Linked DNA regions of Homo sapiens: regions 2 and 3 are each linked to region 1. The links come from fine-mapping of genetic effects on plasma protein levels. A gene starts in region 1. Each other region holds a variant in brackets. All regions are shown on one strand. Distances are from middle to middle.

Region 1 (5,932 bases):
CACCATTATCAAACATTAGTAGACCATATATGCATGGGCTCTCTATTTTTCTGCATTGATCTATGTATCTATTTTTATGCCAGTACCATACTCTTTTGATTACTACAGCTTTGTAATATAGTTTGAAATCAGGGAGTATGATGCCTTCAGCTTTCTGCTTCTTTCTCAAGATTGCTTTGATGATTTGGGGTCTTTTGTGGTTCCATATGAAATGTTAGAATTGTTTTTTCTATTTATGTGAAAAATGTCATTAGAATTTTGATAATGATGACATTGAATGTGTAGATTACTTTGGGTAGTAAAGCCATTTTAACAATATTAATTCTTCTGATCTATAAACACAGGCTATCTTTCTACTTATTTATGTCTCCTATAGTATCTTTCAACAGTGTCTTATAATTTTTAGTGTGCAATTTTTTGTGTGCATCTTTCTTTCACCTCCTTGGTTAAATTTATTCATATTTTATTCTTTTTGGTGTTATTGTAAGTGGGATCATTTTCTTAATTTCTTTTTGAATAGTTTGTTGTCAGAAATCAGTAATAGGAAGAACTTTGGAAAATTCACACATGTGCGGAAATTAAACAACACATTCCTGAACAGCCAATGAGCCAAAGAATAAATCAAAAGGGGAATAAACAAGTATCTTGAGACAAATGAAAATGGAAACACAAGGTACCACAACTTATAGGATGCAATAGAAACATTTTTAAGAGGGAAGTTTATAGCGAAAAATACCTACATTAAGAAAAAAGAAAGACATCAAACAACCTAATTTTATATCTCAAGGAACTAGAAGAGGAACAAACTAAGCCCCAAAGTCAGCAGACTGAAGGAAATAAAAAAGATGAGAGCAGAAATAGAAACTAGAAAAACAACAGAAAAGATCAACAGTAAAGATCAACAAAATTAACAAACCTTAGCTAGACTAACCAAGAAAAAAGGTAATTCACATAAACAAAAGTATAAATGAAAGAGGAGACATTACAACTGATATCACAGAAATACAAAAGATCATAATCAACTACTATGAACAATTATACACCAAGAAACTGGATAATTTAGGAGAAATGGACGAATTCCCAGAAACATACCATCTATCCAAACTGAGTCTTGAAGAAACAGAAAATCTGAACAGACCAATAACGAGTAAGGAGATTGAATTAGTAATCATAAACCTCCAAGGAAAAGAGACAAAGGAAAGCCCAGGACCAGGTCTGACCACATCTTTACTCAGTTTTCCCCGCGGCCCCCGGTCCCCACCCCTCTTAGCCTGTCTCCCTAACTTCCTTTCTCCTGAGGTGCTCCCCCAGGAAACTCCTTGCACCAGAATCCCCTACGCAGGCTCTGCTTATAGGGAAGAAATGGACGACAGAGGTGATGGAGTGGGGTGCGCCAATGAAGTATTTTGAATGAAACTAGCAGACACCTTTGTTCCTAAAGATTCCATCGTCACACCAGCTCTGGGATGTTTACTAGCTTCTTCACCCTGAGCTATTCTCAATCTCAGAGCCTTACTGCTCTCTCTCAATCATTCTCTCCTCCTCACCCCTTTCTTTCCAGGTTGCCAATAGGAGCTCCAAATATTTTCTGGCTATTTCATGTAGCCATCTAGTTTTCCTCAGCTCGGCTTCAGGCGCACTTTTGCAAATCAAAGCCATTCAGCAACTCAGAGGAACAAAAAGGGGCTTATTTGAAGGTAGCAGTGTCTATGACTGGCAACCGTCTGTGTGCTCCCTTACACATAGGGTCCTGTGTAAGAAGCCTACACACAATGCCTGGCACACTGCACTCCACACATGGTATGTACACTCCTTGGGCAATGCCTCCTAACGGCTTAGGACCATTCCCTGTCCTCCCGGGGCGTTTAGAATAAAACCCACACTCAGACCCTGCCTCACAAGACCCGACATGATTTGGGTCCTCACCACTCCTCTGCCCTCTTCTCACTTTCCAGCCATGGGATGACCCCTCTTTCTCTTTTCCTGCCTGAGACTCCCAGGAAACCTCTTCCCCTACCTTTTTCTACATAAATCCTACTCTCCCGCCGGCTCAGTTCAAAGCTTCTTCCTCAGAGGTTGCTCTGGCCACTGAAATTAAAAGAGGCCTCCTTCTGTTCATTTTACTAGTGGCATCGCCATGCAGTTTTCCGTGTATTACAGTCAGTTTCCTTGCGTGCGTGTTTGGCTTTTCACTTGTTTTCCCCTTGCACTGTAAACCTCTCAAGGGCAGGACACTCGCTGTCTTGAGGGGCGCTGTAATGCCAGGGCCAGGTCCCTGCTCGTCTGGCGCTCAGCCCGTGCTGCTCTACACGTGTTTGCTGAATGAATGGAGCAGTGAACCCTCAGAAATTCGCCTCCAGATGAGCGCCTTGGCCGTCTCGGCGTCTCCTGGCCTCAGAACATCACCCTTGGCTCTCCCTCAAGGGGGAGCTCCCAAAGCGAGAACGTGACCCTGTCCTGCACCCAGCCCTCCACTCCAGGGCCTCCGCCGGTACACATCTTCGGCCTCAGCCTAACGCACTCTAGCAGGCACAGACCGCCACGCCCCCACCCCTCCAGACGGAAGGACTGCAATCCCCACAAGGCACCGCGACTCAGCGCCACCCGATTGGTGAAGCCTCTGGCGTCGGCCAATAGGACGTGGCTTTGTTGGCGTGTGCCGCGGCCGCGCGAGTCCTGGAAAGCGTTGTTGGCCCGGTTGCTCTGGAGCCGGGTCTCGGGTCTGGTGGCTGCCGGCCCTGCGGCATCTCGCCATGGGGAGCACGGAGAGCAGCGAGGGCCGCAGGGTGTCCTTCGGAGTGGACGAGGAGGAGCGGGTCCGGGTGCTGCAGGGTGTCCGGGTGAGCGGCGCCGCCTGGGCCGGGGCGGGCGTGGAGGCCGCGGGCGCGGGGGGGAGGTGCGGGGCGGAGCGCAGGGCCGGGGCTCTTTCCACGCGTGAGGGGCGTGGGGCTTGGGAGACTCCGGGGGCTCAGGCCAGGAAGAGGCTGAGCCGAGACGCGAGCCCGAGGCTGGCAGCCTTGGAGCTTCGCGACATGGGCTTCAGGGAAGGAGGAGTGAAGAACTGTACAGGTGCGAGGCCCCTGGGACACGAGGGACGCCCTGGCCACGTCCTGGCTCCGGTCGGCTTAGTTTTTACGTTTCTTGAATTTGCGCCCGGCCTCCCAGCCCGTGGCCCCTCAGGTGCGCGCATCTCGTTCTGGGTACGCGGTGTCTCCCACCTGGGCTTTGCCTGGGGACTCAGCTCTTCCCCGCCGGCCTGTTCTCCACAGCACATCTGCGGGGCGCAGGAAGAACCATAGCTCAGATCTGATCCCCTTCCTTGCCTGAAACCCTCCAGTGGGTTCCTAGCGCGCTTGGATGATGCCTTCCCTGGTTCCAAAGCTGGCCGCTGCCCGTCGACCTCTGGGGACTGCATCCCTCTGGGACTGCATCTCGTGCCATTTCCCTCGCGTGGCACCCGCACCTCGTCCCCAGCCTCAGGACCGCCGTGTTTTCCTGGAGGGTGCCGCTGGCTCAGCTCAGGGTCTGTGCGCCGGCTGTTCTCTCTCCTTCAGCTCTCCTTAAATCCCGCTGTTTCTTGTAATTCTTGTTGTAATTCAGATATCACCAGAGAATCCTTCCCTGACCACCCAATCTGAAGTAACCTCCCACCCCGCGTCCAACATTTATTATTTTCATAGCACTCATCACAGTGATCGCTTCTGTTGATAATTGTTTACTTGTTTATTGCGTTTACTGCTAGAGTGTAAGCTTTTTGAGGCTAAGGTTCCTGTCTGATTGAAGACTGTCCCCAGAACCCAGAAGAATAAAAGCAGCTCTTATTGCAGTGTAGGGGCCATGCGTTGGACTAAACCCTTTATAAGTTAACTGATTTAATTTTCAACAGCCCTATTTAGCCCATTATTGTAGATTAAGGAGAAGTGAGGCACTGAGAGGTGAACGAACTGATCCAAGATCATGTAAATAGTAAGTGGGAGAGCTGGGATTGAAACAAGCCAATTCCAGGGCATGTTGCTGTGCTCGGCCTCTTCCTCCACCTGTGTCTACACCTGCAGGTGCTTTGTAAGTAACTGTGGAGAGATGAATGAACCCAGTAAAAGGGACTAGGATTAAATGAAACGCACAGAGCTGGGTGTAGATGAATTAGTTAATTAAGGAGGAATTAGGGAGGTGGCTTAGAAAGACAGACTTCAGGAGTTCTGGCAGGTGCTCATTAGCTGTGTGACCTTGGGTAAAAAACTCTTTTGAGCCTCAATGGCCACATTAAAAAAAAAATTGGGTGTGTATGTATCCTAGGTACTGCCTAGGATAAGATGATGTCTGTGAAAGTGTTAAGGAAACGCACAGAGAGAGTGCTTTGTGGAGGCCTCTCTTCTTAGCCTAGCAGAGTACTTGGCACATTTGGTGCTTGCTAGGCGTTGTATAGTTTTGTGGACCTCACTCGTGGCAAGGATTAAATGGGGGAGGAGATGGCTTGTGTTGGAAGGCCGAGAGGGAGGAACCTGAATTGGAATTTAGAAAGATAAGCTTGGCTCTGTTTGGGTGCTCTCACCCTTGTGATTTGGTCTCCTGTTTTGGGGAATGTTGGAAAGTTAAGTTGGAGTCCTCAGAGGTTCAGGGGAGTGCCTTTGGGGGTGCCTTCTTTCAAGTTGATTGGAAACCTCATGTTTTTTGAGTATTATATAAGACAGGTACATTTCATTTCTAGTTCTCTTAAATACTTCTGCAACATATAAATTCTCTGTATTTAAAGATGGAGAATTGAGCTTAAAGGAGTTAAGGAATTTGCCCAAGGTGTTAACCTGAGTAACTTCTGGGACTTTAATTAAGATCTTTTCGGTGCAAAAAGCAACTTTTTCTCACTTCTGCAATTCCCCCCCATGATGTATGCAAGGCAGCCTGAAAATTTTGTGACAATACCCATACCTGTCCTGACAGGGATGATAGTGCCCCACTTAGTTTTAAAACTGGAAGGAACTTTGGTGACTGACTGCTTTCTTTTCCAGCTGGGCAAACTAATCAGAGAGGATAAATGACTTGTCCAGAGGTGCACAGTAAGGTGCACAGCCCCACGTTATGAGAGCCACGTCCTTCCTTCTGCTTGTGTTTGAAAGAGGAAAACTGAAGAAAGGAGGTGATGGTATGAAGAAAGGATGTTTTGGTGTAGAGGCTTTTTCTGTTAGCAGAGTTACTTGAGGGTTGAGGAATTCACCTTGTCTTTAGGCAAGTGAGTGAAAAAGATTGCCAGATCAACAAAACAGTTGCCAAAGGGAACAAATCAGTTCATTTAATGAGAAGCAGATGCCAAAGAAGATCTGCCCCAGCTTCTTTAGAGCAAGTTGAATATTCTTAATGACCATTTGTATTTAATTCCTGAGGCCTGGTCTTAGAAAGTGTTCTCGTCCCTGTAAGATTAAGTGTTAGTGGCTGGTAGTGGTGGCTCATGCCTGTAATTTCAGCACTTTGGGAGGCCGAAGTGGGCAGATCACCTGAGGTCAGGAGTTAAAGACCAGTCTGGCCAACATGGTGAAACCCTGCCTCTACCAAAAATACAAAAGTTAGCTGGGCATGGTGGCACACACCTGTACACCCAGCTACTTGGGAGGCTGAGGTAGGAGAATCCTTGAACCCAGGAGGGGGAGGTTGCAGTGAGCCGAGATTATGCCAGTGTCCTCCAGCCTGGGTGACAGAGACTCCGTCTTAAAAAAAAAAAAAAAAAAGATTAAGTGCTAGGCCTTGCTAGTTTACATACTTAGTTTGCATAAATTCACAAAGTGTGTTCAAACCGTAATTCCATGGAAGGTAAAAGAAATTTAATGAATGCAAAATGCTGCAGTTATATTCAACTCCAGTTTTCAGAGCAAATGTGTGAAATACGTAAAGATTTTGTTTTAACCAGTACATTTAACCTCATCCTTCAGTAAGAGAAGGC
Region 2 (5,932 bases), 250 kb after region 1:
AGGGGTTCAGGGTGGATAGAGTGCACCTACTTTTGTGAATGGCTTCACCGAAGGCCTAGCCCTGCCTTGCTTCAGAGAAAGCTTTTCATTTCCAGAGCTATGCTCTCCCTGTCTTATCCCATTCAGAGCCTTTTTGTGGACAAATGGGTGAAATTTCTTCCAGTTGACATTTGCCTTCCATTCTGTCTCCTCATATTGTTCTGATAAGTCCCAGGAGAGAGAGGCTGTCATGGTCCCACGGGCGATACTGGCAAGGAGGGGATAGATTTCGCCATGGCCCAGTTTCTCCTAAACTGGGAGCCCACTGCGAGGTTTGCCCTCAAAATGCAGAGGCCCTTGTCCTGGGACCTGAAACTAAAGTAGGAGAAGCCAGTGAGGAGGGGACACAGCCAGGCTGACCATGGGGAGAGGGGCAAATGTGGCTGTGTCTTCCTGCACATCGCCATTCTGCAAAGTGTCGGCGTCTCTGTTGTGCCTCTGTAGAGGGCAGGGCTCAGCAGGTCAGCCCTCCAGCTCCATGAGGCTCAGCCACATGACTCAGGCTGGGGCCACTTAGCCTCCGCCTGTCCTGTCTATGGTACCTCTTTTCACATAGATCAGTAAGCCTCACAGAGTTACAGCTTAGGACAGCTCTGCCCTGACTAAGCCTGGGGCTTCCCCTGAGCCACTCACCATGACACACAGGTCCCCTCAGTGCCTGCTGGCCTCCACGGTGCAGCCAGGAACCAGGCTCACCAGGGCCCCATGAGGGCAGGGTGGGGTCCTGCTTCAGGGGAGTGCAGCAGAGGCTATGATGGAAGTCATGCTCTGGGGTCTCAGACTCTAGAGGGCCAGCACCGTCAGGAGGAACAGAAGACACAGCAAGAGGCTGGTATGAGGGGACAGCAGTATAGGTGACAAGAGAGAGCCCAGGGAGACTGGCAGTGCCACTGAAGGCACCCACTGCCCTGCAGATTTAACCCTGCCTGGGGAGGGGAGAGCACAGCCTTCTAAGGCTGGAGACTCAGGGAGCAGAACAGGAGGGGAGGCCTCTGCGATGGAGGCAGAGAGCCTGGCCTGTGACTTGAAAGTGCTCCTAAAACAGGTGTCAGAACACTCAGAACCAAAGCTGTATGTGCAGTCCCTGAGAACACCTGCCTGAGACGAAATGCCATGAGGCCAGCCGTCCCCCAAGGAAGAAGCAGCCTAAAAAGCCCACAACTAGACACACCCATGTCACAGTTCTTAAATACAGATGTGGAGCCGTGCTTAAGCACCTGGAGACAAATCAGGGGCTGCCCCAGACACCCCAGCTGTATTCTTGCCCCAGCCGCCTGTGCGGCAGCTGACGCAGGCCAGTGAAGCGGGTCTCCGGAGCTGGGCAGAGGACTGCACACCAGGGGCTCATCTGCCCTGCATATGTAAGAACGAGAAGTCAATGCAGATAAAACCCCCCCCACCCAGTCCTCTTCAGGAAATAAGAGGACCCTTTAAGACTTGGTGCATGCAATGCAGACTTGAGTCAGAATTGTGACCTCAATGGCTAGGATGGGGTGGAATTCAAGGACCCAGGCCAGGGCTGGGCCACCATGGCCTCCCCTGGCAGGAAGGGGAAGGCGTGCTCTCCCTTCACATCCTTTACCTTGGCGCTGGTGTGGCATGGCAGTCACAGGCGGCTGCACCCCACCCCACACTCATCCCTCCCCGTCTTTAATTTAGGGACTGTTCGTTTTGTTCATGCCCTGGGGATGGGTCTTGCTGGCCTTAGCTGAACATGGGACACTCACTGCTCATGTTAGCGATGGTGTTAGGCATGGGTATGTGACCTGGTCCTAGACAGTGAGTGGAGGAGAAACCTGGAGTGGGGTTTGAGGGGAGCATTGTCCCGCGTAGTCAGATGAGACAGCAGAGAGACCTGCTCCTCCCTGCTCCCTTTGACCTCTGCTGCAGAGAGGACTGCGCTGCATACAGTGGCCTGGGGATGACATGGACGAGAAGGGAAGACCAGACCCAGGTGGCATCACTGCTAAGTCAGCAGTGTACAGAAGTGTCCACCCGCAGACTTCCAGAGCAAGACAGCTAAATATGGGGTCCTGTTCCCAAGCTGTCGAGCATCCTGGTGCTGGTGGTTTCTAGCTGAGGAACTGTGTTCAAGTTATCGTTAGATGATAACGGCTCTGGAGACCCTGGTGGGAGAGCAACTGACCTACATATCTCTCTCTCCACGTACCTGGAGTGGAGCTGTGGCATGTGTGACAGTGATCCTTTCTATTGCTAAGAAACTTGAGGAATGGCTTTCTACATTTTTACAGCTCTTTTTGGTGCCCTCAGCCGTGAGTGGTGTTCAATTTGGAAAGGCTGTTAAGTGTTACAGTGGGTCCGTCTACAGCTGGGAAGGGTCCTGGCCTAAAACCCACTTAAGAAAACAAATGAGCAGCAACAGTACATCCAAAGCCATGTAAATAAATATGTCCCGCTCCTCCACTGTCCAGCTGCATGGCCTTAATTCTCTGAGCCTCAGTTTCCTCATTTGTGTGAACAGCATGATGAACGATAGTGTCTGCTACCAGAGCTGTAAGGAGCAGCACTGAGCACGCCCAGCAGCCGGAGGACAGCACCTGGCTGGCAGGGAGTGCACGAATGTGCTGTTGTGTGTGTCAGTGTGCGCACGAGAGAGAGAGAGAGAGAGAGAGAGAGAAATCTGGAAGGAGACCAACCAATCCAAAATTACGCTCAGGAGGCTGGGCCAGTGACTGACTTTAGTTTATCTATATTTGCTCTTTTTTTCCACAACTTTAGAAAGTGAACTTACTCACTTTTGTGGGTTCTAAAACTACTTTGAAAAAGAAAGAAAAAAATAGTAAATTACCCCCAAAATATTATAATGGTTACCTCTAAGAAGTAAAAAGAACATTTTTCATTTCTTTAGACATTTCTGTAGATTTCATTTTCCTTATTGCACGCATATTAGTTTTAAATCAGGAAAAAAAATAAGTCACATGGTTATAGTCACGGGTAAACCACAGGCACAGGAAAGCCCAGGAAAGCAGCTGACGGCTATCCTGGGCACAGTGGGGCGGGCTGTCTCAGGCATAAAGGGATGGCTATCCTGGGCACAGCGGGGCGGGTTGTCCTGGAGGCGGGCTGCACCATCCTCATGGGGGCCCTCCAGTGGGGCTTTCCTGTCTCCTGAGTGTACACAGGCCCCAGTGAAGGAGCCCGGTGTGGAGCCCCATACCACAGCATGTTTCAGTGTCTGCTATATTGTGAGCCTAAGCCACCCACCACAGGGCTTGACCCTGCGACCGTCCTCTCATTTCTAGAACGGGAAAGCACAGTGCTTCTCCTTGAGGGTTAAAAGGATGCTGCTGGGTGTCAGGGACTTAGCCTAGCGCCTGGGAGGTAGGTGGAGTGAATGTGAGTTGTTTCTCTCCCCTGCCTGCTGGCACCTGAGCCCCAGGCCTGCCTGCTCTTGTCTTCTGCAGGCCCCGCAGGGTGGAGCCCGTCTGCTCAGGGTTGCAGGCCCAGATTCTCCACTGC[T/C]ACCGAGATCGCCCGCATGAGGTGCTGCTGTGCTCGGACCTGGTCAAGGCATACCAGCGCTGCGTGAGCGCCGCCCACAAGGTAAGGCCTTGCCTGCCTCCCAGGTTTCCAAGGGCCTTGGGAGGTAGGCGAGGTACCTCTATCTAGCATTGGAGATCTCTGCCTGCCTTTTCCTGTTAGAATCAGATGCTCCACTTGGAGGTCTCTGCATTTGCCAAGGGAGGGATTCTTCGCTTTCCTCAGTCACCTGCACACTCTCCTGGCTGCTTCCAGGAGCGCCTTGGACATCTGGCCCCAGGGAGATGATCCCTGTTGCGTTTGCCCTATTAGGCTGGGTGGGAGCAGGCTGGGTAAAGTCAGGCCCCACCTTCAAGGGCCGGGCCCCTTGTGGGTGCCGGGGACTTCTTAGCCCTCGGCACTTAGGGGTGGGAGGGTGGCAGAGGCCCGAGTGCAGAGTGGGGGTCCCAGCAAGGATAGGCCATCTGGAAGAGGAGTGGGAGCAGATGTGGCCATCAGAAGCTGCTCACAGCCACCCTGCCCTGAGCTGGTCTACAGGGGTGTGCTGGCTTGGCCTTCCTGGTGAGTGGTCCCAAGCCTCATGTGCTCTCTGGTCACCTCCCACTCCAGTGGGCCTCGGTTGTCCTGGATGCCTGTGATGCGCTCCCAGCCAGCTCCTACTGCCTTCCTCCCCCACCCCCAACTGCTGCTCTCTATCCTAGATAAGTCCTCCCCCTTCCCAGGTCCCGTAGCGTCCTCTGGTGCAGTCAGGCTGTTCCCAGCCATACCTCACCCTTGCCCCACCCCAACAGGACAGCTCCCACCTTGGGGAGCATCATTCACTCTCAGAACACCTAGTTTGGGCTCCCCAAGGAGTGCGGCCTGTTTGTGAAAATGTATGGGAGAAACAACAGGACGAGGTCTCCTTTCCCACGTAAAAGCCTCTTTGGCCTGAGTAGGAGACAGGCTGCTTTAGGTACTTGGGATGGAAAAGGCTGAGGCCAGATGCTCTGTGCTCTCCAGCCATGTCCAAGGGGAGATCTGTCCCACTGAACTGAGCGGGGTCCTGCAGCCCCAGGCCTGCAAGAGCTTCCTTGGGTCATGCCCTGCTCACACCCATCTGCCAAGGCTGATTGTTCCACTCTTTGCTGGTCACAGCCCCGTCCAGCACCGACTGTCCCTTCATGGCCAGAACACAGCCCAGAAGTAGCTCCACACAGGATGAGTGGTCGCAAGGCCTCTGTCAGCCTTCCAAGAGAGGGAAGCCCTGGGTAGGACAGGCGGCCTCCTCCTCCATCTCAGAGGATGGAAGGCTGCTCACTCTGCTTCCACGTGGGCAGGAGGCGCTGGGGCACTGGGTAGGCTGGGCCAGACCAGGGCCCTTCGCACCGACCAGACACTTAGCTCCCTACTCACCAGCAAAGTGAAGCCTCCAGATCCTCCACACACCCAATCAAGGGCAGCTCCGAGTCTCTGTTCATCACACACCTAACTCTTTACCGAGGGATCTGCTGCAGCCTCTTGGCTTCCTGGCAGGGCCTACGCCTCAGTGGCCAGCCCTAGACTCCATCCTCTCTCCATCCAGCCCCACCTCTGTGGTAGTTTTCAGCCCCTACCCACCACCCCTAAGAGTATTTCTTTAACAAACACACCTCACCAATATATCTTCCTCGCACCAAGGCAAAAATGTGATTACCAAGGAAGACAGATCACATTAAACCCCAGTGTATTCCCTGAGAGAGGCTCTGGGACACTGCCAGGTCTGGCTCCCTCCTTCCCGGCCCCTACCCCTGACATGACTAGCAAAGAAACCAGAGACTGAGCAATGGCAGTGCCAGAGGCCTGCCTGCTCTCCCCACGTGCTGCCTTGGCAGTGTGTGTGCATTTGGAGACGGCATATTCAACCTGACTCCCTCGGAGCCCCAGCACCCAGGCACTTGGGTGGTGCCCTGTGTGTGAGATGTGGCAAGTGCTGGAGAAACTCTCACCACCCTTCGCCAGCCTTCGCCTCAGAAGGCTGCTGGCAGAACCAGAGAGCGGGGAGTGAAGGGTCCCTAAGAGGGATTTGCTTATGCAAGGGGCCAAACAGCAGGGGACAGAGGCCCACATGGTCAAGGGCCTTGGGGTGGGGCAGCACTGCTTCTCTCTCCAGGATCTAACATCTGCCCTGGGGCTCCTAGGGCAGGTAGGTGATGCCTAGGCCCAGAGCCTGGCACCTGCCTGTGTGCAGATGTGCTGGGCATCTCAGATGAGGACAGGGGCCTCAGGCTGTCCACCACAGGACCCTGACTGTGCGGACCCCAGCATCCCAGCAGGCTCCTGCTGAGCTGTGAAAAATCAGAGAACAGAGGGGAGGCCTTGATGAGGCAGAGCAGAGTTGGGTTAGACTCTTCTATATCCAGGGTGCTTGTCAGAA
Region 3 (5,932 bases), 270 kb after region 1:
CTACACTGCGATGCAGCAATCTTACTCCTGAGTTAATACCCAAGAGAATGAATATGTATGTCCTCTAAATAGTACGCACAAGAATGTTCATAGAGCCTTACTCATCACAGCCACAAGGTTAAAATAACCCAAGTGCCCATGGAAAGTAGAATGGTTAAGTTGTAGTTTATTCACACGATGAAATACTACAGCATCACGAAAAAGAACACACTCGAGCTCCCTGTAGCAACATGGATGGATCTCTCAGACACCTCGCGGTGAGAGACAGAGGCAGATACAGAAAAATTCACGGTTGTATTAGCTTTCTGCTGCCTCCTAACTAATGACCACAAACAGTCACTTGCAGCAATATATGTCTGTCCCCTGCTTTCCGTGGGTCAGAGCTCTGGTGTGGTGCAGCGAGGTCCAAGACTGCCCTCCAGATGTGGCTAGCCTGGGTTCCTCTCTGCAGCTCAGGCTCCTCATTCAAGCTCACCTGGATATTGGCAGAATTCATTATCTTGCTGGAGGATCGATGGGCTGTCTTTTTGCTATCAGCTCAGCTAGAGGCCACCAGTCGTCCCCTGCCTGGAGACTTGCTCACAGACTCTCCATTGCCAGCAAAGAGATCCCTTGTATGTGTAACATAATCATGAGAGGGACATGCCTTCACATTTGCCCAATCTATTGCTTGGAAGCAAGTCACACACTTAAGGTGGGGGGGATTATAGAGATCTGACTCATGGGAGACCTGGAGTATGTCTGCCATGGTACTGGATGGGTCTGTTTATATGAAGTTCAAAGATAGGCAAAACTAACCTATGGTGAAGGAGTCTGGATAGGGGTTCTCTGGGGGGCGAGGGGTGGGGTCAGAAGGAACCTTTGTTTTGTGGAGATTACACATGTATTTGTGTAGAAGTGTAAAGATGCATTCATTGAGCTGTGTGCCTAAGGATTGGGGACTGCATTGTATGTGAAGGAAATAAGAAGGAGAGAGGGAGAAGGGAAAGGAAAAAGGAAGGAAAGAAGGGAGGAGAGAGAGATCTATCTAAAAGCAGCTCTTAGTTTGTATGTTTTTTTGCAGAGAGGCAGGATGTCCCTCTGTATCTGCACGTTGGACACAGTGTATACGTCTCTTCATGGACACAGGAGACACCCATATCAGTTTTTGCTCTGGTGAGCTGGGGGCAGGTGCTGGAGGGAGGCCGACTTCATTGTATCCTTTTATGCATTTCTTGGATTTTTTTTTTACAACGAGCATATATTTTAATAATTAAAACATCTTAAAAAAAAAAAAAGGCCAGACAACTCAAAGGGTAAAGTGTACTTGGGGCGGCGGTGGCTGTGATATCAGAGCAATTGTCCCCACACCATCCCCACCTTATAGTGTGAAGTTGAGAGGTGAGTGCAGCTGTAAGTTGGGGAGACTGCTAGCATCTGTTCCAGGTTGGGGAAAGTCTCTTGTATTTTCCTCCTAGTGGCTGCAGCAAAGGGTCAGGTAGGGACACCACACCTGGGAATGCACACAGAGGAAGGTGAAACCAAGAAATAGATGCCTGGTGACATTATGGGAGTCCCCGGATTCAGCCCTGCCTGAAGCCAGACAGGGAAGCACATTGATGAATGTCCCTTGGGATGAAGCAAAGCCGGGTTTCAGCCAGCTTCCTCCGGTGCTGTCCTGCCCATGGTTTATGTCCGGTGTCTACTCTGACTGGCTGTTAAACATATACATATTTTTCAGTTTTTAAAGATGGAGTCACACTGTGTTGTCCAGGCTGGAGTCAACCTCCTGAATTCAAGTGATCCTCCCCCCTCAGCCTCCCAAGTAGCTGGGACTGCAGTCGCATGCCACTGCACCTAGCTTTGGCTGTTAAATGTTTAAATGTTTAAATATTTTAAACATTTTGGTGTTTATTCCTTGAGCCCAAAAAGCTCTGCCATCTGGATGGGGTCTCCAGGCCATGGGGCTTGGAGCTAGGTGCTGTGTGTTCAGGTCCAGCTCCTCCCTTCGCTGCCCTGCTGCCCCCTCCTCAGTGGGCCTGCGTCCCTGGGGCTGGTACCTGGCACACCACGTGCCCAGGAAGGGTGGGCAACTCGGTTGGCCTGGGCTTCTGAGGGCACAGGAGAGCTGGGCTGGTTCTGCCTGCGCATTTTCTGTGGAATGCAGACCATGCTGGCAACACCAGGGCCTCGGGACACCTCTGCTTCTGACGCAGGCCCAGGACAAGGGGTGATGCCCTGTGGTGAGCTGCAGCTGCTCCCAACCCAGGCCGGGTGGGCGGGTGCTTCAAGGCAGGCTTCCCAGAAGAGGAGGAGCCTGTGCGGGGGCTGGAGGAAGGTCAGCAGGGTGACCTCAGGGGAAATAAGTTGTTCCCTCTGTCTCCAGAACAGAGGAGCAGAACAAGCATCATGTGCAAAGCTCGTGGTGAACCGGGGAAAGCACAAAGCACCCCCGTGA[T/C]GGAGGGTGGGGGTAGGGTAGGAAGAGAGGCTGGCAGGGGGAGGGCGACTCTCTGCTTCCTCCGGGGGCCTCTGTGGCTCCGTCTGTGGCTGTCCAGAGCAGTTGCCAAGTATGCCCCTGGGGCCTGTCACTTCTTCATGCCTTGGTTTCCTCATCCATGTAAAGGGGGCAGTCGTGGCCCCTCCCCACCCACCCGGTGGTCAAGATGCCTTGGGGAACCTGGCATAGGGCCGGCCCTTCAAATTTCTTTGCTCTGGTCCTCACAGAGACCCCAGGGCCACGTGATTTGTGGTGTGGTCCCGAAAAGGCACTGAGGGATGGTGTCGGGAGGGGACCCCATGTTGCTGCCTTCAAACCCTGTGCTCCTTCAGATGAGCCCCCAGCTGCCATGGTGGCATTCCCCGCTGGGCCAGGGTTGCTCCATAGGGCTGAGGCAGAGTATGGCATGGCGGTTAGAAGAGATCCCCAAACTCCCACCCTCCCTTTCCAGCTCCACTCCCACCCATGCACCAACCCATCAATAGTGCAGGCTGCTGCAAAGAGGCATGCATGGGGCTGGGGGTGGGTAGGGGGCTCCCAGCAGGCTCTCCATGGCTGGGGCTGGAATCCAAGGCTAGCAGCTCAGGCCCCTGGAGGCAGCCTGCTGCTGGTCAGGTGGCAGATTGTGTTTTCCAAAGACTGCCTCCCCTGCACATCCGTCCTGCAGGGCTTTGCAATGCACAGTGGGCCTGTCACCCCTGCCAGAAGAGGGGGCTGTGCTCTGTTCCCTGGAGAGCCATGGGGCTTGTCACCAATCTGCCTGATGCAGCGTAGCCCAGCGGTGGTGCCCTCCAGGCTTCTGAGCCCCAAACCCCCGCTTCTCCTCCTCTGTACTTCCTCTCCCTGCCCCCCTGGATGGGAGCTGTGCATGGACACATAAGAAGGTCGGCTGCCCTGAAGCCACCATGCTGGAGAGGCTGTGGAAAGGCCCCACAGAGCTAGACAGAGCTGCCAAAGAGCCCCGCCCCAGGGGAGTCTTGCCAGACAGGTGGGTGAGGAGCTGCAGCCTGTGCAAGTCCCAGCTGAGGCCTCGGACACTGGGACAGAGACCAGCCTTTCCCACTGTCCTCTCTGAATTCCCTGCAGAGACCATAAGAGAGAAGAGCAGCTACTGGCTGAAGCCACTACATTTTAGGGCGACTTGTGATGCTGCAGCAACTGATAGCAACTGCACCCCCACAGCCCCTGATGGATGCTCTGCCTGGCACCAGGCTCTGTGCCCCTGAGAAGATGGGCTCCCTGGCTTGCAGAGCTGCTATTTGTGGGGCCGGAATAATAAACAGCTGAATGGACCAGAGACTATCAGTTGGTTAAATGGGACTGGGATGCATTTTCCATCAGGGAATCAATCGGGGCTCCTCTGAAGAGGTGATATGAGCTCTGAGGCCTGGAGAAGGAAGAGATGGCTCTGGGAGCTGGGACCAGGCAGCCCAGCCCAGGATTGCTGTGATGGCCTCTGCTGGGTATGGCCCCCAGAGGCCTGCTGGCCTGTGAGCTCTATGGGGGTGCACAGGGCACTGGTTCTGCCCAAGAGGAAACGCCAGCAGTGGAGTTGGTGCTGGTGTAAGAGCAACAGCAAAGGTATTTTTTTTAACTTTTTATATTGAAATAATGATAATCTGTAACAATTACAGATTCACAGGAAGTTGGAAAGATAATAGAGAGAGAAGCCTGTGTACCCTTCACCCAGTTTCCCCCAATGGTCACATTCTACATAACCACCACACATCAGAAAAGGGACATTGGCACTGGTGTGACAAGGGTGTCAAGCCCTGTGTCACTTTATCACACATGGAGATCCATGTTTCTGTCCCTGTAACCAGGATACAGAGCTGTTCCCTCTCCATGGAGACCCCCTGGTACTCCCTTTCACAGTGACAATCACCCCCCTACCCCAGCTCCTGGCAGCCGCCAATCTCCTCTCCATCTCTATGATTTTGTTATTTCAAAAATGTTATATAAATGGAATTATGCCATTTACATTTTCTGTAATTACTGACATAACTTCAGTCTGCTGTTTTATTTTTTGCTTTGTTTGTTCCTGTGTTTGTTGGTGGTGGTGTTTCTCTATTTTCTTTTTTTTGCCTTGCTGAGTGTTACTTGGACATATTTAAGCATCTATTTTGGTTTTTGTACAGTGTTTTTAGTGTATATCTTTGTATAGATTTCTAGTGGCTGCCATACTGCATTATACATATGTACTTATCACAGTCTACTGCCATCAACATTTTACCATTTCGAGTGACATGTAGAAAGCTTCCCTCTCTTTGTGTCCCTTTTCCCCTTCCATTTATAATATAATTATCCTAAATATTTTTTCTACATACATTGAGACATTCGACAATGCTATAATTTTTGCTTCAACCACCAAATGTAACTTAGAAACCTTCAGAGAAGGGGTCCATTGTATTTACCCATAGTTTTGCTCTTTCCATTGTACTTTCTTCCTGATGTCTCAAGATTCCTTCCTTATCACTTTCTTTCCATGAGAAGAACTTCCTTTGGCCCTCCTTTCACAGTAGGTTTGCTGGCAACAAACTTACTTTTCCCTTCACCTGAGAAGGTCTTGATTCCTCCTCATTCCTGAGGGATAGTTTCACTGGGTATAGAATTTATGGTTGACAGCTCTTTTCTTATGGCACTTAAAAACGTTCCACTTATTTCTTGCCTCCATGCTTTCTGATGAGACATCCATGTTTTTTGGAAGGTGGTTACGTGGCTGCTTTCAAAATTGGGGTTTGTTGTTGTTTAGTTTTTGGAAGTCTGACTGTGATATGTCTTGGTGTGGATTTCCTTGGGTTTATAACGTTTGGAGTTCATTCAGCTTCTTAAATCCTTACATTTATGTCTTTTGCCAAGTTTAGGAGATTGCTTCTTCAATATTTTTTCGGCTTTGTCCTCTTTCTCTTCTCCTCCTGGCAATTAGATGACATGAATATTAGATCTTTTGTTATCTCTCAGAGAACTCTTTTCTCCCACCCCTAGTCTATTTTCTCTCTGTTTCAGACTGGGTGGTTTATATTGCTCTATCTCCAGGTTCACTGCATCTTTCCTTTGTCCCCTCTGTTCTGCTTTGGAGTTATCGATTAAGTTTTTATTCTGATTATTGTATGTTTTTAAAAAATTCTAAAGTGTCCATTTGGTTCTCTTTATAACTTCTATTTCCTTGCTGAAACATTCTTTATTTTCATTTGTTTCAAGCATGTTCATAATTGCTCATCAAAGCACCTTTAGGATGGCTGCTTTAAAAGCCTCATCAGGTAATCCTGATATTCCTTCCTGTTCAACATATACCAGTATTGGTGTATGCTGATTGTATTTTCTGGTACAACTGACATTTCTCTGGTTCTTGCTATGACAGGTGATTTTCTTATTGGATCTTGAAAGTTTGGGGTATTGTATGTTGAGACTCTGGATTACATTTCAATCTTCTGTTTCACAGCTGGCCTCTCCTGA

Direction of the effects. Alleles are on the strand shown, and positions count from the first base shown. The strength of an association depends on the size of the effect and on how common the allele is.
In carriers of allele C in region 2, the plasma level of the protein whose gene starts at base 2,681 in region 1 tends to be lower than with T alone (weak association).
For the plasma level of the protein whose gene starts at base 2,681 in region 1, allele C in region 3 goes with a higher level than allele T (weak association).

The links. A credible set is the group of variants that fine-mapping cannot tell apart. PIP is the chance, under the fine-mapping model, that this variant and not a neighbour inherited with it causes the effect. The UK Biobank Pharma Proteomics Project read protein levels with antibody pairs (Olink). The fine-mapping took linkage between variants from a reference panel, not from the people measured, so its PIPs are less certain.
Region 2: its variant is the best candidate, but not a certain one, in a credible set for the plasma level of the CHCHD6 protein (UK Biobank, PIP 0.62). The variant lies in the coding sequence of CHCHD6. If it changes the protein, the assay may bind it differently, which can mimic a change of level.
Region 3: its variant is the best candidate, but not a certain one, in a credible set for the plasma level of the CHCHD6 protein (UK Biobank, PIP 0.76).

The regions. Positions count from the first base shown.
Region 1 is chr3:126,701,560-126,707,491 of GRCh38, forward strand. CHCHD6 (coiled-coil-helix-coiled-coil-helix domain containing 6) reads left to right here and starts at 2,681. Exons shown (of 8, transcript NM_032343.3): 1 at 2,681-2,840. The coding sequence starts at 2,754. RefSeq lists enhancers at 2,261-2,320, 3,381-3,932 and a silencer at 2,871-3,070.
Region 2 is chr3:126,953,952-126,959,883 of GRCh38, forward strand. CHCHD6 (coiled-coil-helix-coiled-coil-helix domain containing 6) reads left to right here. Exons shown (of 8, transcript NM_032343.3): 7 at 3,465-3,600. Among named protein-coding and RNA genes, the nearest start is that of PLXNA1, 26 kb to the right of the region's middle. RefSeq lists an enhancer at 680-769. The variant T/C (reference allele first, on the strand shown) is at 3,520.
Region 3 is chr3:126,969,828-126,975,759 of GRCh38, forward strand. No RefSeq gene overlaps it. Among named protein-coding and RNA genes, the nearest start is that of PLXNA1, 10 kb to the right of the region's middle. The variant T/C (reference allele first, on the strand shown) is at 2,438.